Regions from separate parts of the Homo sapiens genome. Here region 2 is linked to region 1. Evidence: fine-mapped expression QTL. Tissue or cell type: subcutaneous fat. Region 1 holds a variant in brackets; the other region holds the start of a gene. All regions are shown on one strand. Distances are between the middles of the regions.

Evidence for each region. PIP is the estimated chance that this variant, and not a neighbour inherited with it, causes the effect. A credible set is the group of variants that fine-mapping cannot tell apart.
Region 2: SULT1C4 starts here. The variant in region 1 is the best candidate, but not a certain one, in a credible set for the expression of SULT1C4 in subcutaneous fat (GTEx, PIP 0.51).

What each region holds. Positions count from the first base shown.
Region 1 is chr2:108,308,824-108,313,069 of GRCh38, forward strand. SULT1C2 (sulfotransferase family 1C member 2) reads left to right here. Exons shown (of 8, transcript NM_001056.4): 8 at 1-1,092. Among named protein-coding and RNA genes, the nearest start is that of SULT1C2, 22 kb to the left of the region's middle. The variant A/T (reference allele first, on the strand shown) is at 1,688.
Region 2 is chr2:108,375,989-108,380,234 of GRCh38, forward strand. SULT1C4 (sulfotransferase family 1C member 4) reads left to right here and starts at 1,966. Exons shown (of 7, transcript NM_006588.4): 1 at 1,966-2,518. The coding sequence starts at 2,350.

The DNA of each region.
Region 1 (4,246 bases):
ATATCTATATTAAAAACAAAATTTCTGTCATCTGTCCTGGCCATTCAGGCAACTCCAGCCTGGGCTCAATCCTGGAGTTCTGTCTGGTCACTATCAGAAGGAACACTTTGAGGGAAACCCTGGTGCAGCCAGCCCTGAGGAAACATGGCCTGAGTGCCCTCACTGGTGGGTGGGAATAAAATGGAAGTGCACAGAGGAGATGTCAGAAGACCAAAACTTGGTGAATAGTCCCAGTGCTAGGTCATATAGGAAACAGAAAGCATGACAGTGGCCTTTTGGGAACCCAAGTTACGTCCTGGTGAAAGCAGAAAGGAGGAGACAGGATGGCTGTCAACAACGTCAGCATGGGCATGGCTCCCAGGCATGGAGGTAATTGGGTCTTGGCTTCAATGCCACCCTTTTGGGAAGCCCTAAACCAAGTGAGGTGTTCTTTTCCCTTGCTTCCCATATTTGTCCCAGTTGCAGCCCTGTTGTTATGTATTTACTCTTCAATTTCTTATTTATACCTCTCACTCAATTGTTAATTCTTTGGGTTCAGTCTCATGCCATATTTACTCCTAGTACCTAATGCAGTGCCTGGCACACAGCAAGTGCCCTTGAGAACTTGTAGAGGGAGTAAAAAAGTGCATGGATAAATGACTGCAGCAAATCACAAATTTTGAACTTTGACCCTTTTCTTTTAGTCCCAAATAGTGGCATTCCATAGCTGAGGGTAGTAGGAGCAGTTCACCCTGGGAGCAGACAATAAGAGGAAGAATGAAGCCAACTAAAATTCTGAATGCTTTTTGTTGGATTTCGTAGGGTATTTTTTTTAAAATAGGGTCTTGCTATGTTGCCCAGGCTGGTCTTAACTGACTGCTTTTTATTATTACCATGCACTGGCAATTCCAAACAATGTCAGTGTTAAAATGCTTCTCCCTGAAAAAGAGAAAAAAAAAAGGAAAAAAAGAAAAGAAAAGTGAAAAGAAAAACTCTTATTGGCCTAAGTTCTAAATAATAGCTAGGTTACCACTGAGTTTTAACTATATGTATATGAGCTTCAAATAAGCACCTTTTTATTATGTAAATAAATAAAAGTTATCTGTATCCCCACTGCATTGTAAAATTTTTGTTGTTTTGTTTCATGTCTTATTCACCTTTGTATGGAAATTAATTCAGAAACCCCAAGCATAGAGTCTACCTCTTTAATTCCAGCAGGCAGATGTAGTTCTGCCTGCTTCCTTCCAAGGTTAAGTTCATAACAGTTCAGAATCTTGCAAGCTCACTTCAGGTATAACCTGTGTCTCCAACCCTGCAGTATTTGGATATTGCTGTTTAAACAGTAGATTTGGCATAGATGATGGTGGCACAATGGTTGTAAAGGAAAAGAAGCAGAACACCTCAGTTTGTTCAATTCTCTCATTGGGGTTTTCAGTTGTATCCAGAATTTAAAACAGTAAAATTTAAGAGTGTGAACAGCAACATTCACACTTTGTTTAGTAAGTACAAAGTTGTGCTCATACAGGAAGTTTACTGACTTTGAATAATAACTTTAAAAACAAAATTTACTCTTTTCTAAGTGTTAATTATTTGTTTTAAAATTTAAGAATGAATCAAGAAATAAAACATTACACCAGTGGTATGATTTAGTAATTGTCTGACTTATACTTTTTGTAGACATTTTAGTTTTATTTAAATTGGCATTCTG[A/T]TTTTTTTACTGGTCTTGAGTCTATACACAAAAGTTGAATAAAAGAAAAGTTTCACTGACTACATTTCTTTACTATTATTATTACTTGTCTCTATTCATGATCAACACTGAAAATAATTTTGTTGTATACGGAAGTAATGTTGATATGGTTAGGCTGTGTCCCCACCCAAATTTCATCTTGAATTGTAGCTCCTATAATTCCCTCATGTTGTGGGAGGGACCCCGTGGGAGATCATTGAATCATTGAGGTGGTTTTCCCCATACTGTTCTCATGGTAGTGAATAAGATGTGATGATTTTATAAGGGGTTTCCTCTTTCACTTGGCTCTCATTATCTCTTGTCTGTCACCAGGTAAGACATGCCTTTTCACCTTCTGCCATGAATATGAGGCCTCCTCAGCCACATGGAACTGTAAGTCCATTAAACCTCTTTTTCTTTATAATTTACCCAGTCTTGGGTATGTCTTTATCAGCAGTGTGAAAATAGACTAATAAAGTAAACTGATACTGGTAGAGTGGGGTGCTGCCATAAAGATACCCAAAAATGTGGAAGTTGCTTTGGAACCTGGTAACAGGCAGAGGTTGGAACAGTTTGGAGGGCTCAGAAGAAGACAGGAAAATGTGGGAAAGTTTGGGACTTCCCAGAGACTTGTTGAATGGCTTTGACCAAAGTGCTTATAATAATATGGACAATGAAATCCATGCTGAGGTGGTCTCAGATGGAGATGAGGAACTTGTTGGGAACTGGAGTAAAGGTGACCCTTGCTATGTTTTAGGAAAGAGAATGGTGTCATTTTTTCCACGCCCTAGAGATTTGTGGAACTTTGAACTTGAGGGAGATGATTTAGGGTATCTAGTGAAATAAATTTCTAAGCAGGAAAGCATTCAAGAGGTGACTTGGGTGCTGTTAAGAGCATTCCATTTTAAAAGGAAAACACAGCATAAAAGTTCAGAAAATTTGCAGCCTGACAATTCACTAGAAAAGAAAAACCCATTTTCTAGGGAGAATTTCAAACCAGCTACAGAAATTTGCGTAAATAACAAGGAGCCAAATCTTAATCACCAAGACAATGGGGAAAATATCTCCAGGCCATGTCAGAGACCTTCATGGCAGCCCCTCCCATCATAGGCCCAGAGGCCTAGGAGGAAAAGATGGTTCCATGGGCTGGGCCCAGGGCCTTCCCTGCTGTGTGCACCCTAGGGACTTGGTGTCCTGTATCTCAGCCACTCCGGCCATGGCTGAAAGAGGCCAACGTAGAGCTCAGGCCATGGCTTCAGAGGGTGCAAGCCCCAAGCCTTGGCAGCTTCCATGTGGCATTGAGCCTGCAGGTGCATGGAAGTCAATAACTGAGGTTTGGGAACCTCCACCTAGATTTCAGAGGATGTATGGAAATGCCTGGATGTCCAGGCAGAAGTTTGCTGCAGGGGAGGGCTCCTCATGGAGAACCACCTCTAGGCCAGTGCAGAAGAGAAATGTGGGGTTGAAGCCCCCACAAAGAGTCCCCACTGGGACACTGCCTAGTGGAACCATGAGAAGAGGGCCACCATCCTCCAGACCCTAGAATGGTAGGTCCACCGACAGCTTGCACAGTGCACCTGGAAAAACCACAGGAACTCAATGTCAGCCTGTGAAAGCAGCCTGGAGGGAGGCTGTACCCTGCAAAGCCAAAGGGGCAGAGCTGCCCAAGACCACGGGAACCCACCTCTTGCATCAGAGTGACCTGGATGTGAACATGTAGTCAAAGGAGACCATTTTGGAGCTTTAAGATTTGACTGCCCCACTGGATTTCAGACTTGCATGCAGCCTATAGCCCCTTTGTTTTAGCCAATTTCTCCAATTTGGAATGGCTATATTTACCCAATGCCTGTACCCCTACTGTAGCTAGGAAGTAACTAACTTGCTTTTGATTTTAAGGCTCATGGGTGAAAGGTACTTGCCTTGTCTCAGATGAGGCTTTGGACTATGGACTTTTGAGTTAATGCTGAAATGAGTTAAGACTTTGGGGAACTGTTGGGAAGGCATGATTGGTTTTGAAATGTGAGGACATGAGATATGGGAGGGGGCAGGGGAGGAATGATATGGTTTGGCTGTGTCCTCACATAAATCTCACCTTGAATTGTAGCTCCCATAATTCCCACGTGTTGGGGGGAGGGGACTGGTGGGAGATAATTGAATCATGGTGCAGTTCCCCCATACCATTCTCTTGGTAGTGAATATGCCTCATGAGATCTGATGATTTTATTAGGGGTTTCCCCTTTCAATTGGCTCTCATTTTCTCTTGTCTGCTGCCACGTAAGACATGCCTTTCACCTTCCACCATGCTTGTGAATCCTCCCGCCTCAGTTTCCCAAAGCACTGGGATTACAGGCATGAGCCACTGTGCCTGGTCTTTTTCATTTTAATTGCAGACACAGTTCTTTAGTACTTGCATGCTTGTGAGGCCTCCAAAGCCATGTGGAAATGTAAGTCCATTGAACTCTTTTCTTTATAATTTACCCAGTCTTGGGTATGTCTTTATCAGCAGCATGAAAATGGACTAATATAAAGATAGTTAAAAAA
Region 2 (4,246 bases), 67 kb after region 1:
TATAGGATACCTTATTTACATCCAACATTACATTAACCCTGTGAGATTAATAAAAAACGAAAGGCTCAGAAGAGATAAGTATTAGAAAAGTTACACAGCTATTAGGGGGCAGTTTAAATTCAAACCCATATATTTAGAATTCCAAAGCAATGCTTGTCAAATATAGACTTAGCACCAACTTTATTCTTATAATCACTAAATATATTTATTTAATTCTCCTAACCTCATGAGAAAGTACTATTGAGTAAAAACATTAAGTGAGAATAAGAGCAGTGTTTGTAGTCAAGATCACTTTTCAAATTATTTGGAACTTCCCATCTTCCCTGGATCTATTTTCAATCCCAGTCAGTCATCTTTGGGTCCAGAAGCATATCCTCCCCCATCTCCCAGCCCTCCCCCTCTAGCACACAACGCACTGGAGAAAACTGCTAAGGCATTGCTGAATATCTACCACTCTACTCTGATGGCACACAGGGCCAAAAAGATTATAGAATAAAATCTAACTGAAAAATTATAGGTGATTTTTATAAGTCTGTTTAAATGCATATGCATCCCAGGCATTCCACCTGGCAGTCTCTGTCTCAAGGGCCCATCCACCTCACCATGGTCTGGAGGGAGGGGATGAGGAATAGGGAAAGCCAAAGAATTGATCTTTTCTGAGTTTGCATCCAGAACATGGGCCACAGAGAAATGGTGAACAAAGTCACCCATTATTATTAACAGCTATGATTTATTCAACATTTCCCTGTTGCCAAGCATTAAATAAGCTGTTTTATCTCCCCACAACCATGAGGTAGATAATGTTAAGATCCCCAATTCAGACCTGAGGAAAAGCGTGATATGAAACAGAGAAAGATTCTGTAACCTGCCATTGCCCACAGCTACTGGGACTTGGCACAGGGTTCAAATACAGGCAGCCTGACTTCTCTCTGAAGGATGTCAAGCCACAGCCACCATACTCACCTAGTCCCCACATAATGATGGCCCAAGGAACTCGCTTCCTCAATTTTTGCTTAGTTTTACTCATTCATTCTTTCGAGAAATAGAAGAATGCCAGACACTAGGCATACAGCTATCAAACAGTGAGAAAACAACAGGCCCCATTTCATGTGCCTTAGAGTGTAGTGAAGGAGACAGAAAATGCCAACAAGTAAACACGCAAAAACTAACTGTCAATGGTTGCTCTAAAGGAACACAAAGTGCCATGAGCAAGGAAATAGGAGGGACCTACTTGAGATGACATAGAAAGTCAAAGAAGGCTTCTCCAGAAAGGGGGCATCAAAGCTGGGACACGAAGAAAGAGAATCAGACAGCCAGACACACAAGAGCCGACAAGATCTCCAGAAGGAGTGCTGCCATGGGGAGCAAGTGTGGCATGGCCCTGGGGTGCAGGCCAGGCCGGGGGCAGGGACTGAAGCAAGTTGTGAAATTTCTGATTATCAGGGGCAGAATGGATTCCTAAGGCAGCCACTGTCTTCTGTTAACTCTGGAGTTTTCTGCATCCCTTTTGCTTTAAATGAGGCATACATGTTTTCATAGCTGTGATGAAACCCCTACAATTCTCCAGTTTAGCATTATTTATTTTACTCTTAAAAAATAACAAAGCTGACCCTGGCAGATGTTTGTACTGGGAGATTCAGATCCATCCAGGCCCCCACTGTTAATAGCCCACGGGAAAGTCCCTGCAGTCTCTCAGGGAAGTCATTCTGTGTAGAATCTGTAATTTCACAGGCAAGTCCTGCAACTTTTTAATTGTTTAAAATTCCCAGAAGGAATAATTACTGAAATTATCTATGAAGGGTTTAATGGACACAGACATGAGAGCTATAAACAATGTGATACTATGTCCTGTTAACTCACAGAGAACGGAAGGGCTGGAACGGGACCCAGCCAGCAGGGTTTGTGACCGCCTCTGCTGTGACGTCACAGCCTGGTGAGGAGGGGGCTGCAGTTCCTCAGGAAACTGCCAGTGGACAAATTCATAAACAAGAGCTCCAGTTCCCTGGAACCTGAGTCGGGAGACCTGCAGCTCACTTTCTCCCTGTTTGCTGGCCAGCAGGGTTTGTGGCCGCCTCTGCTGTGACGCCACAGCCTGGTGAGGAGGGGGCTGCAGTTCCTCAGGAAACTGCCAGTGGACAAAGTCATAAACAAGAGTTCCAGTTCCCTGGAACCTGAGTCGGGAGGCCTGCAACTCACTTTCTCCCTGTTTGCTGGCCCAGACAGGCCTGTGCTAGAGGGCTGGATAGTGTGGTAGTGTGGTGGATAGAGTGCTGCCTCTATCCACAACGCAGCCATATGCTGACTGAAGATAACTTTGTGTCTGGAAGAGCCCTCTGATTTCTTACACTAATGGCCTTACACGACATGGAGGATTTTACATTTGATGGAACAAAGCGCTTAAGTGTCAACTACGTGAAGGGAATTCTTCAACCGACAGACACCTGTGACATCTGGGATAAGATCTGGAACTTCCAAGCCAAGCCTGATGACCTGCTTATTTCTACCTATCCTAAAGCAGGTAGGTGGAAGGGCTTGCAGGGGAAGGGGAAGAGGAGAGTTAGGAAGGTAAGTGGAAGTATGCATTAGTCATGAAATAAAGAAGTTGATCTGGAAAACTCTGGACAGAGTGATATGGCTAAGGAAAGTTACTAGTGGAAACTGAAGCTATACCGAAACATACTAAAATGACATACAAATTTTTAGAATTCAATCTTCCTATGATACTATGATGTACTTCCTTTTTTTTTTTTTTTCACTTTCCCAGGAGAGAGTGAAAACAGTTAAGAGCAAAAGGGTAGACTTGTTTATTTATTCATTCCCAATCTAGGCCCTTATTGTAGATCTTGTAAAAAGCTGCTTTGAGTGTGTGAGCTAGAAAGGTGATCCTGAGTCTGATTTGGGAAAGAAATAGGGGAGCTTTGGTTCTGCAATGCTGATATCACCTCAGCAGCCCTCCCATCTCAGGGTCTGAGAACCATCCTTCTGATTTCCACCTTCCTTTGTGGTAAGTTTTGAACCAACTGCCTTATCTCAACAATCAGTTTAACAAAGTTGTCTGTAAAAGTAGGACTAGCTTAAGCCGAGCCACCACGTCATAAAAATTGGGTGATGATGAGGTGGAAATAGTTCTCTATAAATATTTTTGCATATCTACATATCTACTAGAAATACATTACTGGGTCCACACACAAATTGTATATACATTTGCTCTTTGCAAAATCAAGCTGTCAAAAACTCTTGTTATACACACACAAACACACACACATCAAAAAATCTAAACCTCAGTATTTTCTGAGACTGTTCAAAATCCTCTTTTGTTCTTATCTCTCAAGATCCTGACAGAAGATTCTGCAGGCACATGGAGGCCTTGGTCTCTTCTTTGTCCATCTGTTTCATTTTGGTCCTGATTTCCCAATCTTACTCATCAGGAGCCCATTCAGGATCAAATTTTTCTGAATGTAAATTTCTAAAAGTAGCCACTGGTGAGGATCACATCTCATCATCTTAATTTCATTGACAATTCCACTTGATTATCAATTCAATACATAAATAATCTTTTCTCTATCTGCCAAACGCAAGTACAAAGATATGGTTCATTTAGGTTTTTCATGGCATTAATGAGGTTTAAGCAATTCAAAAAGCACACTAAGAAAATTAAATACTTGCCATCTAAAGTAATATTTAATCATAACTAAAACCATATACATTAATGAAGGCTATTTTATTAGAAGGAAGAAGAAACAAGCATAGATGGCAAAAATAGTTCACCCTAAATTTTTAAAAGAATAATACTCTGAATGACACAAGAAAAAAATACATCATAGAATCACTGGCCTCTAGAGAATAAATTGAGAAGTCATTCCACTCACCCCGGAGCCTCTAGCAACATTTGAATCTGCCCTCATGTTGGCTCATGTCTATAAATTCATTCAATTCATTCATTATAGACATTCAGTGTTATGGCTATAAATTCCCATAAAACTAGTACAAATGGCTGGACTATTCTTTGCATGGATAGCTAAAGATATCTTGGCCCTTTGTCCTGTAATAAAAGTTGCTGCCAGAAAATACAGGAGACCAACTACTATAAAATATAAAATGTAATTTAATTTTTTTCTAACCTATGCCCTTATTCTAGGCCTTTAAAAGCACTAAATTGAGAATATGGGAAAAGGAATCTATAGAGTTTCGGCCAGATAATACAGGAAAGATCAACCTAGATCAGGATTCAGAAAGCCATCCTGGC